Linked DNA regions of Homo sapiens: regions 2, 3 and 4 are each reported to be linked to region 1. The links are microRNA targets in miRTarBase. Many come from high-throughput screens and were not tested one by one. Region 1 holds a microRNA gene; each other region holds the end of a gene's coding sequence.

What was found. The annotated mature microRNA hsa-miR-6134 reads UGAGGUGGUAGGAUGUAGA and lies in region 1 at 2,045-2,063, shown strand. An mRNA with a match to its seed (bases 2 to 7 or 8) in the 3' UTR can be bound and repressed. Matches are read on the target gene's strand: a 7mer-m8 pairs with bases 2 to 8, a 7mer-A1 pairs with bases 2 to 7 and ends in A, and an 8mer does both.
Region 2: miRTarBase lists ATP8B2 as a target of hsa-miR-6134. Seed matches in the 3' UTR shown: 7mer-m8 at 2,311-2,317 and 8mer at 2,467-2,474.
Region 3: miRTarBase lists FAM83G as a target of hsa-miR-6134. Seed matches in the 3' UTR shown: 8mer at 1,048-1,055, 7mer-A1 at 1,519-1,525 and 8mer at 2,212-2,219.
Region 4: the mRNA of TMEM239 is a reported target of hsa-miR-6134. The part of its 3' UTR that is shown has no 7-base or 8-base seed match.

What each region holds. Positions count from the first base shown.
Region 1 is chrX:28,492,246-28,497,637 of GRCh38, reverse strand. MIR6134 (microRNA 6134) reads left to right here and starts at 1,975; the gene lies at 1,975-2,083.
Region 2 is chr1:154,347,848-154,353,239 of GRCh38, forward strand. ATP8B2 (ATPase phospholipid transporting 8B2) reads left to right here. Exons shown (of 28, transcript NM_001370597.1): 27 at 561-691; 28 at 993-3,457. The coding sequence ends at 1,271. Among named protein-coding and RNA genes, the nearest start is that of ATP8B2, 25 kb to the left of the region's middle. RefSeq lists enhancers at 483-1,467, 1,468-2,451.
Region 3 is chr17:18,968,943-18,971,942 of GRCh38, reverse strand. It overlaps FAM83G (family with sequence similarity 83 member G), which reads left to right. Exons shown (of 6, transcript NM_001039999.3): 6 at 195-3,000. The coding sequence ends at 584. SLC5A10 (solute carrier family 5 member 10) reads right to left here. Exons shown (of 15, transcript NM_001042450.4): 6 at 2,786-2,891; 7 at 2,521-2,601; 8 at 725-930. Among named protein-coding and RNA genes, the nearest start is that of SLC5A10, 18 kb to the right of the region's middle. RefSeq lists an enhancer at 238-1,179.
Region 4 is chr20:2,815,551-2,820,942 of GRCh38, forward strand. It overlaps TMEM239 (transmembrane protein 239), which reads left to right and starts at 814. Exons shown (of 2, transcript NM_001167670.3): 1 at 814-865; 2 at 994-2,512. The coding sequence starts at 1,005. The coding sequence ends at 1,463. C20orf141 (chromosome 20 open reading frame 141) reads left to right here. Exons shown (of 3, transcript NM_001256538.2): 3 at 1-280. The coding sequence ends at 225. RefSeq lists a silencer at 1,311-1,370.

The DNA of each region.
Region 1 (5,392 bases):
ACTGTAATGTGTAGTGATTGTCTTTTTTTTTTTTTTTTTTTTTTAAGACGGAGTCTCACTCTGTAGCCCAGGCTGGAGTGCAGTGGCATGATCTGGGCTCAACTGCAACCTCTGCCTCCTGGGTTCAAGCAATTCTCCTGCCTCAGCCTCCCAAGTAGCTGGTATGACAGGCACCCGCCACCATGCCCTGCTAATTTTTGTATTTTTAGTTGAGATGGGGTTTCACCTTGTTGCCCAGGCTGGTCTTGAACTTCTGATCTCAAGTGATCTGCCCACCACGGCCTCCCAGAGTGCTGAGGTTACAGGCATGAGCCACTGCGCCTGGCCGGGATTGTCTGTTTTGATTTTATTTAATTAATTAGTTAATTAATTAATTTATATTTATTTATTTATTTTTGAGACATAGTCTCACTCTGTCGCCGGGGCTGGAGTGCAGTGGTGTGATCTCGGCTCACTGCAACCTCTGCCTCCCGGGTTCAAGCGATTCTCCTGCCTCAGCCTCCCGAGTAGCTGGGATTACAGGCATGTGCCACCATGCCCAGCTAATTTTTCGTATTTTTAGTAGAGGCGGGTTTTCACCATGTTGGCCAGGCTGGTCTCGAACTCCCGACCTAGTGATTCGCCCGCCTTGGGCTCCCAAAGTGTTGGGATTACAGGCGTGAGCCACCGCGCTGGCCTTGTTTTTATTTTTAACGGACGTTTTTGTAAACATTTATAGTTTTAGTAATATATATTTTTATCCATGTATTATTTTGAAGTTAGTTACATGATGCCACTTTCTCAGTTCTTTCTAGCAAAAATTTATTTATTTAACTATCTGATTGGACTGTTAATGGTTCTCTTTCCTTTTTCTTTCCTAATTCATAGAATCAGAGCTATTTTTAGACGATTGTATACTTAAAAAAATTCTACCATAATCAGCTCTTAGAAGCATTAAAATGTTTGGAAGATATGGGGGAAAACAAGAAATACTTTGATATTCTTAGGGGATTTTCCAGGGAAAATATGAGTAGCACTGACCTTTTATATCAAAATTTACCCACTCGAATGGGCACTTCACTGTCAACTTAAATTTTAAGAGGACCTAAAAAGGTTGTCTAGAATATAAATTAATTCAAATGTTGCAAGTTGACATATCACTTGAATTTCATATGATACATATTTTCCTAGATCTTTGGATATAGCACTAAGCATAGGAAAATGCTGAAAGGGGTGGACTACCTAGGGACCTTGGGACTTGAAGAATAAAACGGTGATGTGTTATCTGCGTTTCCTTAATATAGCCCATATATCCCAGACAGGGCTCTTCAGAAGCATCTAACCCGGAACTGCCAATAGCCATGGATAAAAGAAAACTCCAAAAAAAGTACTTTCTTCCCTAGCTAATTGACCAGAAATGGGGTGTCCCAACAATAAAAAAAACCTTTTTGGCAATACATACACCCTCAGCCAAACATCAATAGAAAAAAATGCCCCTGCTTTTGGGATTTCAGTGAAACTTAGTGGGGAGTTGATTTTCACACCACTACCCTACTCTATGAAAGCAGGTGGTGGGACTCGAATTTCTTCCTTCCTTTTCCTAGGGTGGGGCTGAGCACGGACCTAATTTTCTAAATGTGGAGCTAATCTTCCCACTGCTGCCTGGTGGAAGCAGACAGCACTTTTGTCAGCAAGTTAATGGGGCAGTTGAAATTCTGCTTCCATTCAGCAGAACCAGGAAGTGCTCCAATTCCTCTGCCAAGATAGTGTTAGCAGGACTGAGCAGGGACCTGGTCTTTTTGCCTCTCCCTGGCTGTCTCAGGCAGTATTCTGATTCCCCAGCCAGTGTAGTGGCCGTGGGGTCCAGCAGGCAGCTGAGCCTCCTCTGTACCCAGGATTAGTGAGACTTAGGAAGGCAGTACAAATTTGGGTCACCAAGCATTTCATTGATGCCAGGCATTGATGCCAGGTGGGAGTTGAACCTCAGCTCCCCACTGGGCCTTGATGTCAGTAGGGCTCAGTAGGGAACTGACCCTCTATTTCCACCTGCATAAATGAAGCTGAATGAGGTGGTAGGATGTAGAGCTGGTTGACACTCTGCTTTCTCAAACCCTGTGCTTCCCTGGTATTAATGGGGTTTAGCAGACAGTGAGCTTCTGCCCCCATCTGTAGTAACAAAGAGGTATGCATCAGTCCTCTCCTTACCCCTTGCTGGTGTCAGAGTGTCCAGTGGGAAGTCGAGCTTATACTCCTACTCAGAGGCAATGAAGCAATGTGACTCAGTGTCCTACTTTCATCAAGATGGTGTTAACAGGGCCAAAGGTGTGGCTAAACCTCTACCCCACTTATCTGTAGTGAGGCAATGTGAGTCACTGCCCCACTTTTGTCATGATAGTGTTGGTGGGGTTCAGTTGGAAACAGAATATGCATGGCAAACTGCCTTCATGCTACACTTGAACAGGCAATTGTCTGCTAAAAAGAGGAGATGAAATAGGATCCATAGTCTCATAATGTAATATCTAAAATGTCTAGACTATAATGGAAAAATCACTTGCTATACGAACAATCAGAAAAATCACAGCATGAATAAAAAGAACCAACGAACTGATAAAACACCAAGGTGGTTGAAAGCAAGGTGAATCAGATCTTCGCATTATCTGATAAGGTTTTTAAAGCAGCCATCATCAAAATGTGTCAACAAGCAATTACATATACTCTTGAAACAAAGGAAAAAAATAGAAAACCTCAGCAAAGAAATAGAAATTATAAAAAAGAACAAAATGGAAATCATAGAACTGAAAAGTGTAGTAATTAAAATAAATTCAATAGGTGGGCTCAAGAGTACATTGGAGATCACAAGAAGATAGAATCAGTGAACTTAAGTACAGATTATTGGAATGCACTCAGTTTGAAATTTATCTCAACTCAGGGGAGAAAAGAGACCTGGCAGAAAATGAACAAAGTATCAGGGAACTTTAGGACAATAACAACTCAGGGGAGAGAAGAGACCGGGCAGAAAATAAACAAAGTATCAGGGAACTTTTAGGACAATAACAAAGATCTAACATTTGTATCATCAGAGTCTGAGAAGAACAAAAACATTTAAAGAAATAATGGTTGAAAACTCTCCAAATTTAGTGAAAGCCATATCCTATAGATTCAAAAAGCTGAGGAAACTCCAAGTAGGATAAACCTAAAAAAATGTATGCAAAGACACAACAAAATTAAACTTGTGAGAACTAAACAAAAAGAAAAGAATTAAAAGCAGACAGACAGAAACAACATATTGCATATAGAGGAATACCACCTTGAATTGCAGTAAATTTCCCACCCTAAAACTATGCAATTTAGAAGGCGTGGTGCAAGATTTTTCAAGTACTGAAAGGAAGTAAATATCAACCCAGAATTCTGCATCCAGCAAAAATATTCTTCAGGAATAAACGGGAAATAAAGACATTCTCAGGTGAAGGAAACCTACAAGAAGGAAACTTATGATACTTTGTTGCAAGTAAAAGCACCCTTAATGAAAGGCTAAAGGAAGTTCTCTAAACAGAAAGGAAATGATAACAAATGAAGGCTTGGAACTTCAAAAAGGAAAGAAAAGCATCAGAATGAGTAAGAATGGGGTAATATATTGAAGACTAGTCTTCTCATGAGTTTCATACACTATATTTGATGTTTGAAGCAAAAATTATGACATCATTAGATGTGATGCTCAATGTATCTAGAGTAAATAATTAAGATCATTATATTTAAAATTTAGGAAAGGTAAAAGGACCTAAATGGTAGTAAGATTTCTACACTTCACTCAAAGTGATAAACCATTAATAGAAGTGATAGCTTACTTACATGCATTGTAACACCTAGAGCAACCACTAAGAAAACAATATAAGATGATATGTTCAAAAGATACTGATATAATTTAGCTTTGTCCCCGCCCAAATCTCATCTTGAATTGTATCTGTCATAATTCCCATTTTTGTGGGAGGGACCTGGTGGGAGATAATTGAATCATGGCAGCGGTTTCCCCCATACTGTTCTTGTGGTAGTGAATAAGTCTCAAGATCTGATGGTTTTATAAGGAGAAACCCGTTTCACCTGGCTTCTCACTCTCTCTTTGCCTGCCGGCATCCATGTAAGATGTAACTTGCTCCTCCTTGCCTTCTGCCATGATTGTGAGGCTTCCCCAGCCACGTGGAACTGTAAGTCCAATTAAACCTCTTTCTTTTGTAAATTGCCCAGTCTCAGGTAAGTCTTTATCAGCAGCATGAAAATGGACTAATACAGATATATAAATAATCAAGATTATATCCTAAAAAATGTACAAGCAACTCATAGGAAGTTAAGAAAAAGACAAACGGAGGAACAAGAAACAGAGAAAACAAATAGAAAACAAACAATAACATGGCAGACTTAAGCCTTAACATATAAATAATTACTTTAAATGTAAATGGTCTAAATACACCAATTAAGAGAGAGAGATTGGCAAAGTGGGTTAAAAATATGATCCAACAATATCTTTCCTATAGGAAACTGACTTCAAATACAATTACATAGGTAGACTGAAAATAAATGGATGAAAAAAGATACACTATGCAAACATTAATTGTTAAAAAGGAAGAGAATATATCAATATCAGATAAAGTAGATTTCACAGAAAAGAAAATTACTGACAACGATAGACATTACATAATGATAAAAGAATCAATTCACCAAAAATATATAATGATACTGAATGCATGTGCACCAAAAAACAGGCCTCAAAATACTTGAGGTAAAAACTGATAGAGCTGAAAGGAGAAATAGATAAATCCACAGCTATAGTTGAGGACTTTAACATTCCACTCTCAGAAACTGATAAAACTACTGGACAGAAAATCAGCAAGGATATAAAAGAACTGAACAATACAACCAGCCAAAAAGGTCTAATTGACATATATACCACAATCCACCCCAAAATAGTAAAATACACTATTTTTTTTTCAAGAACCCATGAAACAGTCACTAAGATATACCATATATCGGGCCATTAACATATCTCAACAAATTAAGACTAGAAAGTGTGTGAAATTTGTTCTTTGACCATAATAGAGTCTAACTAGAAATAAATAACAAAGACATCAGGAAAATATCCATGCACTTGAATATTAAAGAACATGCTTTTAAATCTTACGTAAGTCATGGAGGAACACTCAAAGAAAATGTAAAAAATACATAAAACTCAGTGAAAATAAAAACAAAACATATCAAAATGTGGAACATTGCTAAGCCATATGAGAGGAAAATACAAAAAATGTACAACTCGAGATTTATGAAAAAGTTACATAATCAAAATTGTGTGATATTGGCATCAAAGTAGACCTTGGATTAGGTAATGGATTCTTAGATATGATACCGAAAGCCTAAGCAACAA
Region 2 (5,392 bases), not on the chromosome of region 1:
GGAGAATCGCTTGAACCTGGGAGGTGGAGGTTGTGGTGAGCCGAGATCGCGCCATTGCACTCCAGCCTGGGCAAGAGCAAAACTCTGTCTCAAAAAAAAAAAAAAAAAATGGAACCAATAGATTGAATGTGGGGTCCAAAGAAGAGAGAGAAATGAATCAAGATAAAAAACAACAAAAAAAAAATTAAAAAAAAATTTTTACAGAAATGAATCAAGATCCATTGCAGGGTTTTTAGTTGGAGCAACTGAATGGGTTGTGGCATTTCCTGAGTTGAGAAAGACCAGGATCAGATTTGGGGAAAGGAAACAATAGTTGAGTTTGGGCCACGGGAAATTCAAGATGCCTGGTATGTCAAGTCTGGCAGTTGAAGCAGCAGGTCTGGAGCTTTGGGGGAGTTTGGAGCTAAATTTGGAGATTTACATTTGGAGGGTGAGCCTGGAGAAGCGGGAAGCCAGAGGTGACTTAGGCTTTGAGAGTAGGGAAGTGGAGCTGCCAGAAATGGGAACGGGGAATGTCTGCCTCGTGACTCCCAAGGCCACTGACTCCTCTTCATCCCCAGGGAATGCCCAGAACACCTTGGCCCAGCCCACGGTGTGGCTGACCATTGTGCTCACCACAGTCGTCTGCATCATGCCCGTGGTTGCCTTCCGATTCCTCAGGCTCAACCTGAAGCCGGATCTCTCCGACACGGTGAGAAGCCAGGCTACCTGCTGTGGGAGGCAGAGATGGGGTGGCTGGAAAGGCCTCATGTGAACACTGGGGGGCTCTGTGGGGCCATGTGGCTGTTCAGTGTGTTGGTGCTTATCTGTTCTTCCTGGGGACAGACACCCTGTGCAGCTGGCCACAGAGGCCTCTGCGTCAGCCTGGTCCCAGGTGCTGTGGGTCGGAGGCCTCTGTGTCAGCCTGGTCCCGGGTGCTGTGGGTCCCTTCTCCTTGGCGATATCTGACACCTCCACGCTGACAGAGGGCTCTTCCCTGTGCCCCTCTGCAGGTCCGCTACACACAGCTCGTGAGGAAGAAGCAGAAGGCCCAGCACCGCTGCATGCGGCGGGTTGGCCGCACTGGCTCCCGGCGCTCCGGCTATGCCTTCTCCCATCAGGAGGGCTTCGGGGAGCTCATCATGTCTGGCAAGAACATGCGGCTGAGCTCTCTCGCGCTCTCCAGCTTCACCACCCGCTCCAGCTCCAGCTGGATTGAGAGCCTGCGCAGGAAGAAGAGTGACAGTGCCAGTAGCCCCAGTGGCGGTGCCGACAAGCCCCTCAAGGGCTGAAGGCCGAGGATGGATGCCCTGTGCCAGTGACCAGAGCACCCAGGGCTGGCCAGTCACTGAGGGAACAGCGTCTCGGAACTGCTGGTCCTCATTCCTTGCTTCCCGTCCCCCCGGTAGACTCTGTCCTGCTGGTCCCACCACACATGGCTGGGACATCTGTTCCCAGCTGTAGGCCCTTCCACCAGCTGGGGAGCTAGAGGGAGCAGGCCCAAGGGCAGAGCAGAGGCTGAGGCACGGGGAGCCAGCCCCACTCGGGGACCAGAAGTGGAACCAAAAACAAGAAAAAACTGTGAGAGATTGTGTCTGCCCCTGCCCTGCCTGGGACCCACAGGGAGACTATAATCTCCTTATTTTTTTACTCCTACTCCCCAGAGGGGCCCTAGTGCCTCTGTTCCTGAATTACATAAGAATGTACCATGCCGGGAAGCCAGAGACCTGCAGGGGCCTCGGCCCCTCACATCGTGTATGTCTCTCCTTGATTTGTGTTGTGTCCAGTTTGGTTTTGTCTTTTTTTATTTGGCAAGTGGAGGAGGCTTTTATGTGACTTTTATGTTGTGGTTGGTGTCTTAACTCTCCTGGGAAAAGGAGGCTGGCACACACTGGGATGCCGCAGCCTGGCCGGCTGTGGGGTGGTTTGGGAGGATCCATGTCGGCTCTGCCTGCAGTGACCAGTGCTCTGTGGGGCAGAGGAGCTGACCAGGGAGGGAGGTACCCATGAGCAGAGGGTAGTGGGAGAGTGTAAAGGAGGGTTTGGTCCTGTCTGCTTCCTCACCTTGAGAGTAAAGTGCTGCCCTCTGCCCCCAACACACACACATATCAATTCCTGGATTCCTTAGTCCTGCTGGCCTTGGGCTGGAGCCTAGGAAAGTGGCCCCCAAATCCTTAGTGAGCTAAAGCTGGGTCTGAAATTTGGTCAGTGGGGAGGGGTAGTTTTCTTTTCTTTTTTCTTTTTCTTTTTTTCTTTTTTTTTTTGAGATGGAGTCTCACTCTTGTCACCTAGGCAAGAGTGCAATGGCACAATCTCAGCTCACTGCAACCTCCACCTCCTGGGTTCAAGCGATTCTCCTGCCTCAGCCTCCTGAGTAGCTGGGATTACAGGCACACACCACCACGCTTGGTTAATTTTTGTATTTTTAGTAGAGATGTTTCACCATGTTGGCCAGGCTAGTCTTGAATTCCTGACCTCCTGACCTGCCCACCTCAACCTCCCAAAGTGCTGAGATTACAGGCGTGAGCCACCACACCCAGCTCAGGGAGGCGTAGTTTTCTTTAATTTTAAATTTAAACCCAAGTTTATTGGCAGACTCCCTTTTGACCTCCCTTTGCCTCCCCATCTGGTGCTTTCTTGCATCTACACCCCAGGGCCCTGTGGTGGGGCTGCAGGGGGAAGCTGTGCACCTGAGATGAGGCTGGAACGGGAATTGGCCTCTCTGCTCCCTTCTTCAGTAAGCAAGGAGCCCCGCCCCTCAGGCCCAGCCTCTGGCAAGAGGTGGTGGAATCCTTGTGCCGGGTAGTAGAGGAGGATAAGGGCAAAACCAGGCCCAGGCCAGTGCCTGGCTTGGTCTGGATGGGACACTGTCAGAGTTTGGCCACAGCCTGTCCTTTACTTCATCCACACCTATGAAGCTATTCCCTAAATAAGGCATTTCCCAAGTTAGTCGCTACCTAATCAGCCTTGAGAAGAATCCTTTCCTCTTCTTTGATAGTGGGTCGGGGGATTCTTCAGGAATGGTTTGGAGCTGGGAGTGGGTAGGGGGATTTTAAATGTTCCATATGGGAGCCCCAAAGGAACTGGATGGGCTGCAGTGAGGTGGGGGCGGGTGGGCAGGGAATGGGAGAGGGGAAGTCTTGGCAGGGAAATCCCTTTTGGCCACACAGTTTACAAACCCAGTATCATGTCTGTCTGTGTGTCTCTCAAGGTGAGAGTCTGATTTTTATACCAAAGAGGAAATGATTTTTTTTCATATTTTGTTTGTCTATATTATATAAATATATATATACAGTTATATATATATATATTATTTTTTGGTTCTCTCTCGTTTTTTAGGGAGGGAAGAAAGTACCAAGTTGCATTGAGCTGTAATTAAGGAACATTATAATTTATGACACATTTCTATACTTGCAAAAATTATATCATTTTATGGATATAAGAGAAAAATGCCTTTTTATAAAATTTCAATTTCTGAGAAGTGTGTAATTTGTCTCTTTTCTGATGTTTAACCAAGACTGGTGGTGAAAGTAAAGACAGAAACTGTCTCTTAAATGTAATTGAGTGGGTAGATCTGGGATATCTTGGACAAATTGGAATCTGACTGGTGTGGGATAGCACCTCATCCATTTGCAGACCTCCCGGGATCTGAGTTTCAGCTGAAGATGAAGACGGGGCAGTGGGTGGTACTGAGCGGCATATCGTATGGACTTTGGCTGGGTGCCTAGGACCTTGAGCTGTTTACCTTTCTCCAAACGCAGGCCAACCTGTCATCCCTAACACACGCCAGATGGATGTGTGTGTAGGGAAAGTACCTGGTAAATATTGTAAGGTTTTGTTTTTTAACTCTGCGCTTTTCCGCATGCCTCACATCTTCCTGGCTTCTCAAGTGAGTATCAAGGAAGCTAAAGTCTTATATTAAAGGGAGCTTTCCTCCAGGGAAGGGAGGGCGGATGAGGATGGGGTCCTAGGAGTCAGGGCCAGGGTTAGTGCTGGCCTGAGGAGAAAGAAGTATAGCTTCCTCCGCCGATGGCCAATATCAGCATGATCCAGCCCCACCCGCAGGCTAATTTCCCCCTGACCCAGCCAGTCTTCAGTTATGGAACAATCCTTCTCAAAAACGTAGACTGGGTGTGGTGGCTCAATGCCTGTAATCCCAGCATTTTGCGAGGCTGAGGCAGGAGGATCACTTGAGCCCAGCCCAGGAGTTCAAGACCAGCCTGGGCAACATGGGGAGACCCCGCCTGTATTAAAAAAAAAAAAAAAAAGGGTGGGGGAGCGGAGGGTGTATGGGGGGAAGATGTGAAGATAAGATCTGTTTCCCTCTTCAGGAGAAACGGCCCCTGGCGGGAATCCCGCCACAGACCGCCAGGAACACCACCTGACACCCACCTCCACCCAGGGAGAGGCTGTCCAGTCCACACAAGCCTTTCTTTGGGGTCTGTCTGGAACCCTGAGCTTTGGGCAGCAAGTGGCATCTGGCTTCAGTGCCCCCACCCCCGAAACACAGAAAGAAGCCTTAATCCCTTGAGGCTGGTGAGGCCCCAAGTCCACCCCTCCCACAAGACAGGTCTTCAGCACTGCGCTGGCCTCCCGTTGGGGGTCTGTTCAGCCACTGGGAATGTCTTCCTTGGCTCCTCTCGCTGACCCTGGCTCTCCTGCACCCAGGATCCTATTATGTGTGTCTGAGGGGCAGGGCCAATGTCATTTTAACTTTCATTGCCTCTTGGGGACGCGTTTTCTCCGTCGCGATATAGACACACGCCTCCACGGAGGCTCCGGGCACTCGGGCTCCCCGTTTTCTCCCCTCTGCCGCAGGCATCCCTGGTCTTCCTTCCCTGCGCTGACTGAGCACCTGGGCTCCTGTGGGAGTGGCTTCCAGCCCCTAGGTCCCCATCGTCCTAGTGCCTTTTCTGAGTGCGTGGAGGTGAAGTCTGTCCGATACCGCAGCTTTGTTCCACTGAGCCTGCTTATCTCCAAGGGCGTTCCTCTCCACTCCACTAAAGCAGCACACACCCATGGGCGCCCACTGCCGTCGGGAGGAGCTCCACCTCTGAACTCTCACAATTCATTCAGCATTTGGCCATCCATATTCTTCAGTTCTTCCCGCTTCCATCTGTGCTCCCAGCGAAAACTACGGCCCCTCCCTTTCCTCCTGGTCGCTTGCTTCCATATGTGAACCCTTACTTGCTTCCCAATCCAGCCCGGAGCCCGTGGTCTGGTACTCGTCGCTTTGCCCCGGAACATTCCAGCCTTGGGTCAGCCCAGCGTCTCCCAGGGTGAGCTGTGGAATGCTGAAGGGCAGCACACAACCACGGAGCAAGAGGAGCGGCAGCTGCCCGGGCTCCCTCCGCAGGCGCCTCTGCACGGCGAGGAGACGCTGGGAACCTCATTCTCCTGCCCCTCCCTCAAC
Region 3 (3,000 bases), not on the chromosome of region 1:
TATTCCCATATTACAGACAGGGGAACTGAGGCATCGAGTGACTAAACCAACTGGTCTAGGCCCACTCCCTGGTGAATGGCAGAGCCAGGAGGCGAACCCGGGCCTGCCGGCTCCTGTGTGCCTGAGCAGGGTCCTGTGCTGGGGCGGGGTTGGCCCTTCTTGCTCAGCCTCACTCTCTGCTCTCTCTCTCCCAGGGCCAGCAGTTTCATCATCACAGGGTCCCTGCCTCAGGGACTAGGGATAAAGACGGCTTCCCAGGACCCCCTAGGTACCGCTCTGCTGCTGACAGCGTCCAGAGCTCTACCAGAAACGCTGGCCCAGCCATGGCTGGCCCCCACCACTGGCAGGCCAAGGGAGGTCAGGTACCCCGCCTGCTTCCGGATCCCGGCAGCCCAAGACTGGCCCAAAATGCCCGCCCCATGACCGATGGCAGGGCCACCGAGGAGCATCCGAGTCCCTTCGGAATCCCATACTCCAAACTGTCTCAGTCGAAGCACCTAAAGGCCAGGACGGGCGGTAGCCAGTGGGCCTCATCGGATTCTAAACGGAGGGCTCAAGCCCCCCGGGACCGCAAAGACCCCTAGCAGCATGTCCCAGCCTGGAGCCACACCTTCTGAGGCCCCAGCCCAGACTCATGACGCGGAGGGCAGACAGGCCGCCTGGGCCTACCAGAGCCCACTGGGACGGCAGGAAGGTGGGATGGGCGGGAGACGTTGGCACTCACCTGGTCGGTGCACCAGTACCAGGTGGCCATGATGGTCAGGCCAAAGGTCATCCCGGTCCACGGCAGGTCCCCTGTGTGGGGGTCTCGAAACATGTGCATGGCGTCTGTACGTGGCAGGTGGCAGGTGGTGTTGGCAATGGTCCTGGAGGGAATGGCCTGGGCGTAGGCTGCCTCCAGCTGCCCGTAACCACCGATCTGGTCAAAAGCTGGAGGGGTCAGGGTGGAACAGGGACAGTTTGGTGGTTGCGGGGCCCTGACTCCCTGGGCTCCCCCCTGCCTTCATCTCACAAGAAACTTCCTGATGCATCAAACTTGAGTTTTTTCCACCTCATCTTTCCCAGTGTTTGGAAAGGTGTGAGGGTAGAGGGTTGTTTTTTTTTTTAAGGTGTATTTGAATGACTATTTTATTCGTATTTAAAATAATACTATTAAGTAAGCATTTTGCACATGGGCACCCCAGTGTCCCGCTGGCCCAGCAGGAGTCACTGTTGGCCTCTGGACACTCATCGGCCTTGGGCAAGTGGTTCTCAGCCAGGTTTCCGATTGTCGATTCAAGGAAGCAAAAGTAATTTTTCTTGACATTTGAGGACCTTCCTGAGGCTTCTAAAGTGTTCATCCTGATCACCTGAAGGGTGTGATTTTAGCAGAGCTGAGAGTGGCTGGTGGTGATGTGGCCCCACCCCCTGAGGCACAGAGAAGAGGGAGACAGGTCCAGAGAGGGATGGGGCCTCCACCAAGACCATATAGACCATCTGGCGGGCTCAAGCCGGGGCTTTTTCCTCTCCAGTCCAAAACACCTCACTGTTCCTGTCTACCTCGGGGTCAGGGCCCGGCATGGCCAAGCCCTGGCCCATCTGTGTCTGTGTCACTCCCCTCCCTTCCAGACTGGGCCTGGCTGCTGGGATCCCTCTCATGCGGTGGGTCCCAGGGACACTAGAGCCCCTGGTCTGAGAGGGAGAAGCCTGGATGTAGGAAAACCCGTTTCCACCCCAGGCCCTACTCCCTAGCCTTTTCCAAGTGGGACATGGAAGAGGCAGCCTGCTGCCTGGATGCTGGTCTCCCCAGCATCACTGTTCCCATGGAGCTCAGGTCAGGCTCTGTATTCAGACCGAGGGTTTGTGTGAGGCTCAGAGCAAATGAACAAGTGCCATTCAAGGGTTAGAAACTGCTCAGCCACAGGGTCCCAGTGTCTGAGTCTGGAAGAGTCTTTAGAGATTTGTTCACTCTCTGAGGGATCCTCCTGGCTCTGCTTACATACTTCCAGGGACGGTGAGCTCACGCTCTCTCCGGGCAGCCCTGTGAGTTTCCTATCTGTTCCAGACTAGTATCGCCAATCTCTCCCAGCTCTCTTCTTTCCTCCCTGGCCTTTGTCCTGCAGGAGGTAGCATCACCTCTTGGCATTTTGTACATGCTTTTAAACAATTGGAGGAGCTGCCCAGGCAGTTTTATGGCCTCCTGGTTGTGTGCCTTCACACCCGCCTACAGCCCCACCTCACCATCAAGCGCTGAGCCAATGCGGGTGTGGCTGGCCCTGAGTTCCTGAGTCAGCTCCTTGCCAGGGCCAGAGCTGGTAACAGCGGGGCAGCAGGGTGGGTAGCCTCTACCAGCCAGGGCAGTCCCTGAGGGGCCAGCAGGGGGGCTGACTGCCTAGTGGCTCAACCTCCTGAACCCACCCACTCCCAGCGATGCTACCCAGAACCCCAACGGCATGAATCCTGCACAGTGCCGGGCAGTGCCAGACTCCAAAGGGCTCGCTGTGGGGACAGCCCCGCCATGGCCACAGACTCTGTCCTCACCTTTGATTGTCAGGATGACAGCCCCCACCACCATGATGAGCGTCTGCAGGGCGTCCGTGTAGATTACAGCAGCCAGGCCCCCTGCCAGTGGAAGCAAGGTTGCTGGAGGGGGCCCTGGCCCCAGGGAGGAGGGACACGGGGAGGAACTTCTGGGGCTCCTGCTGGGGCCACTTCCTGGGCTGCTCCCTCGGGCCTGTAGGGGGAGGTGGCCTTCTGACCCCTTTACACGTCCCCTGGGTGGACCTCCCTGCTGCAGGCACCATACCTGCGATGGTGTACAGGGCTGTGATGCCGAGCGTGAGGATGGTGGAGAGGTAGAAGTTCCAGCCCAGGCAGATGTGCACAAACAGAGCCCCCGCGTACAGGTCCAGCTGCGGAGGGAGAGAGCCTTGTGTGGGACTGTTATTCCCAGGGCTCCAGCAAGCCACTCCCTGGGTGACCTCGGGCAAGGCCCTCTCTGGGCCTCGGTGGCCTGTGGAT
Region 4 (5,392 bases), not on the chromosome of region 1:
ACTCTGCCACAGCGCAAACTTCTCACCAGGGGCCAGAGTCAGGGGGCCGGTGAAGGTCCTGGACAGCAGGAGGCTCTACTCCTGCAAATGGGTACAGTCTCAGGACAACTTAGCCTCCAGGACGCACTGCTGCTGCTGCTCATGGGGCTGGGCCCGCTCCTGAGAGCCTGTGGCATGCCCTTGACCCTGCTTGGCCTGGCTTTCTGCCTCCATCCTTGGGCCTGAGAGCCCCTCCCCACAACTCAGTGTCCTTCAAATATACAATGACCACCCTTCTTCATCAGGCCCCCTTTTCTCCTTCCTGGCTGGGCAGGTGGGATGATACCCCTTTCTTCCCAGCCTGAACCTCACAGTCCTATAATATAGGTATCAGATACCTGGATCTGAGTCTTTGGGCAGCAAGAGAAGGTAGGATACTAGCCAGGGAGCCCAAGGAAGAATGTGGCAGCCACCTCAGAGCCTGTGGATTGGGGGCAGCCACTCTGGCCTCCTCTGTGGCTCTAGAGAATGAAGGTCCAGACAGAAAGACTTGCGAGAGAGCAGTTTGGAAAGGGGTGGATATCAGCCAGCAGGGAAAGCAGGAAAGGGACAGGGATCCAGGGAGGGCTTCCCATGAGAAAGCATGAGAAACTACATCTGCGGGGCTCCGAGGCTCCCCTGCCAGCCTGGAGGGTCCGTGCAGAGGGACTTGGGTGGGCCTCACACCCTACAGTGACTCCTCTCTTGGCTGGACCCCACCCCAGCCCGGGTCACAAAGGGGCTCCTCTGGGGAGGGTGGGGGTAGATGAGAGTGGGGACTTGGATCTGCCTGCCAGGCCGTCCTGGGCGCTGCAGGAAGCAACATGACTTAGGTAACTGCCCAGAGGTAAGTCCCAGTCCCTAATTCTGTAGCCCCACCCCACGCACACTGGTGCCCTCCTGACCCCTGCACCCCCTCTCTGCCCCCCCCCCCCAAGGTCCCAGGCATCTTCAAGACCCTGGCCCTCTCCCCAGGTGCACCAGACATGATGCAGCAGCCGCGAGTGGAGACAGATACCATCGGGGCTGGCGAGGGGCCACAGCAGGCAGTGCCCTGGTCAGCCTGGGTCACGAGGCATGGCTGGGTGCGCTGGTGGGTGAGCCACATGCCCCCGAGCTGGATCCAGTGGTGGAGCACCTCGAACTGGCGGCAACCGCTGCAGCGCCTGCTGTGGGGTCTGGAGGGGATACTCTACCTGCTGCTGGCACTGATGTTGTGCCATGCACTCTTCACCACTGGCTCCCACCTGCTGAGCTCCTTGTGGCCTGTCGTGGCCGCGGTGTGGCGCCACCTGCTACCGGCTCTCCTGCTGCTGGTGCTCAGTGCTCTGCCTGCCCTCCTCTTCACGGCCTCCTTCCTGCTGCTCTTCTCCACACTGCTGAGCCTTGTGGGCCTCCTCACCTCCATGACTCACCCAGGCGACACTCAGGATTTGGATCAATAGAAGGGCAACCCCATCCCACTGCCTGTGTCTGTTGAGCCCTGGCCTAGGGCCTGAGACCCCACGGGGAGAGGGAGGGCAATGGGATCAGGGCTCCCTGCCTTGGCAGGGCCCAGACCCCTAGTCCCTAACAGGTAGACTGGCCTGACCCCGGACTCCTTCCTCAAGTCAATGCTGCAGGTTCCTGGTGTGAGGGGCTGGGGGCTTTGAGAAGAGGGGGCAAGACAGATGGCTTAGCCATTGGTGAAAATTGCTTAGCCAGGGGCAGAGCTTGACCAAGCCACTGATAGCGCCCATATGGATGTGATGATACCCGTGGGGCCCCCTTGGCAACTGACAGCATCTTTTTCTCATAGCCACTCAGCTGTCTCAGCTTCAGACTCACTGAGAACTTCTACCTGGGTACCACTGGCCTTGCCATTCCTCCCACCAATCCCCTCTTTCCACTTCCAGGAGAACCACAGACTCTAGAGAGGGTCCCAGTGACAAAAATCTATCAGGGAGAAGGCTGGCCAGAAGCCCCAGGAGACCTCAACTCACTCGCTCTCCAAACCTTGCAGCCCACGCATCCTCCTCCCTAGACTTCCTACTTCCTGCCTCAGTCTGCATCCCCAAGTCTGAGAAATGGGCCAACTGGGGTCAGACAGCACCTACTCACTCTCTAAGAATCCCAAGGTCTGTTATGGAAAAATGATCAAGAAATCCCATTTCACCCACTTACACAATGTGTGGCCTTGGCCAATTAATTCATTTGAGCCTCAATGTTACGTGGGCCACTTCTGTCATGGGGTTGTTGTGAGTCAAAGACAATATCTATTTGTGAAGCATTTTGTAGAAGCCAAAAACCTGTAAGATGTTGTTTTGAGCTCTAAGAACTTTCTGTAGGCGCATAAGATCTTTTGACCCCAAAGACTGTTGAAGGAACAGGAAGCTTCTCTGGGCTTTCAGATCAACTCTCTGTCCTGGATAGAATTTTGGCCCTAAAATGGTAAACAAGAGGTCGGTTAAGTGTGTACAAGATGTAAAAGGTCATGTGCCATGAAATCTCAAAATGTGCAGATGTTGAACTATTTTGATTATGAAATGCTTGGGCCTGGGGCTGGGTGCCAGATGCTTGCACAGCTGTGTGAGTGGGGACAGCACAGCCCCAGGGTTTCCAAAACTGACCCAGCAAGCCGCTCAGGCACCAGAAGGGCTTTGGAAAGGGCAATCCTTTGATGCCCTGAATGCTGGCCGTTCGTTCACTTGCTGGCCCCTCCAACAAAACATTGAGTGATCGGTAATTACCAAGTAAGGTACATGATAGACAACTTTATCCACACCTGACCCCCACCCAAGCCCTGGCCATCCCCAACTCCTGCCCAGTTCTGATCCCTGCTTTATGTATAACCCTAAAATCCTTGCTCTTGAAGCCCCAGACCCAAGGTCCCCCTCTTTTGTCCCATAAATACTCAGGGCCTTGGGGCTAGCCCCTAGAACCCTGGTTCATTTTTGCCTTAGACTTTTGCAACCCTCCATGCCACGGATTAGATGCCTTCAGCATCAGTGCCAAAACCCAAGGTCCAGTCCTTCCTTTCTGTTTCTTTGTATTTCTCCCGCATTATGGCATGGTAGTGAGAGCGAGGTAGGACATGGGGCTGATGTGGTCTCATGGTTGGATGGGTTTTGGTGCATGAGCTGAGGCTGGGCGTGAGTCCCAGCACTCTCACTTACTAACTCCATGCCCTTAGTGGAAATCGCTAAACCTTCCTCAACTTCACTTTCCTCATGGGTAAAACTAAGGCAAGAACCCCTGTCTTAGGGCTCTGGCATGTGAGTGAAGGACCTGGGACCACTCCTAGCACCACAAATTATAGCTATGCTGTGACCATCCCATTTTAGAGATGAGAAGTCAGGCCCAGGATAGCCAGTTGCCAGTGGCAAGGCCAGGCCATCTGAGTCCTACCAGGCTACTCAAGGGAAGGTGAAGGGGGCAAAGGAAACACAAACAACCTAACTAACTGAAGACCCCAAGGCTTCTCAAGAGCTCCTATCAGAGCTAAAGCCCAGGCCTAGGGAAGTCATGAGTCAAGCCAATCTAGATGGCAAGCTGAGGATTCAGGATCCCATGTGGTGAGGGCAGAGACCAGGCTGCCTGGCCTAGATCCATCATTGACTTGGCCATGCATTGCTAGCCAGGGACGTTGCTCTGGAGCCTTGGGTCCATTCCAATGAAGGGAGAGAGGAGTTTGGGGCCCTGACCAGATGCTCTAGTGGATGGGATGTGGGCAGCAGCAAGGAGAAGACCTTCTTCCTTTCCCCACAGACTATATACCTTTTACCCTCCTGCCCAGCTGGTATGGGGTAAGGAGGTGCACCCAGACTAGAGAGCTGATGGGCAATACTCATCAAATTAGATCCACATATACCCTAGGACCCAGAACCCCAGAATGAATTTTCACAGAGGTCCATAAGGGCCTTGCCCCTCAAAATGTAGTCCCAGAATCAGCAACACAGGCATCACCTGGAAGCTGGTTGGAAATACAGTCTCAGGCCCTGCTCCAGACAGGCCGAATCAGAGTCTGCATTTTTTTTTTTTTTTTTTTGAGACAGAGTCTTGCTCTGTTGTCCAGGCTGGAGTGCAGTGGTGCAATCTCGGCTCACTGCGCTCCACCTCCCAGGTCCAAGCAATTCTCCTGCCTCAGCCTCCTGAGTAGCTGGGATTACAGGCGCCTGCCACCGAGTCCGACAAACTTTTGTATTTTTAGTAGAGACAGGGTTTCACCATGTTGGCCAGGCTGGTCTTGAATCCCTGACCTCAGGTGATCTGCCCACCATAGCCTCCCAAAGTGCTGGGATTACAGGCGTGAGCCACCGTGCCTGGCCAAGAGCCTGCATTTTAACAAGATTCCCAGGTGATACATTGTACCCTGTTTGAGAAGTGAAGCATAAGGGGGTATTATGAGAATGCCTATTGCACTGTTACTAGTGGGAGCAGGATAGGTAAAGGGAAGGGTAAAACAAGGCAGATGGGCCCAAGGGGCAGTAATTAGAAGGGGCAGAAGGTACATGAACCAATCTTAAAATCTTAGCATTGAAAAAGAAATGGAATGAGAATACAATTCCTCTTACACAAATTTAAAAGCATGTCAGCAAAACAAGACAATTTTTGGCAAGAACACATAAAAACGAAAGATAAACAGAATGGAATGGACAACTCTAGGGGCAGGCAAGTGGGAGTAGGGTATAGAGATAACAGGCAATAAAGCTAGAGAGCTTGCAGAGGCGAAACGTGATACCATCAACGTAATTCCTGAAATTCCTTTAAAAGTAGAAAAAGAAGTCCATTTAGAGTTAAAAGGCTTAAAAATGCAAGTCTGGGGAGAATGGGCATGGTGGAAGCCCTTCGGTTTGGGCCAAGAAGGGCGAGCCTTCCTATCGGCCTGTGTGTGACCTGGGCTGCTGGGTGGATGTGTTTGCCGGCCCTCCCCCACCGCACCCCGCAGGCTGCTCTCATGGGATTGGACTGTGGGCCGGGGATCCAGCAACAACTTCGGCCTGGCCGGAAAAATAAAGTCAAGGAGAGCATAAGGAACCGGAGCGGAGGCGGTGTCAGCGAGAGGGGCCTTGCGTCTCAGGAGAGGGGGGATCTACAGCGGTGCACACATGTGCTGGGGGATACCTGGGGTAGGGCTTCCCTCCGCCCCTAGGAACAGGGAAGGCGGCGTCAGGGGGCGCAAGCTGCTGAGGGGTACCCCTTCAAGAGATGGAGCGCCAGTGGCCACTCAGGAAAGGAGAGGGGTCCCCGAAAGGAAGAAGCCGTGCGACACCCAGGAACCTCCAAGGGCCAGCTGCGGGACATCGCGAGGGGGGCGCTGTCCTTTAGACTCGTGGGTGCAGAGAAAGGGGGAGGCTAGGAGAGGCCGAGTGGGGCTGGGGGTGGGGGAGGGACA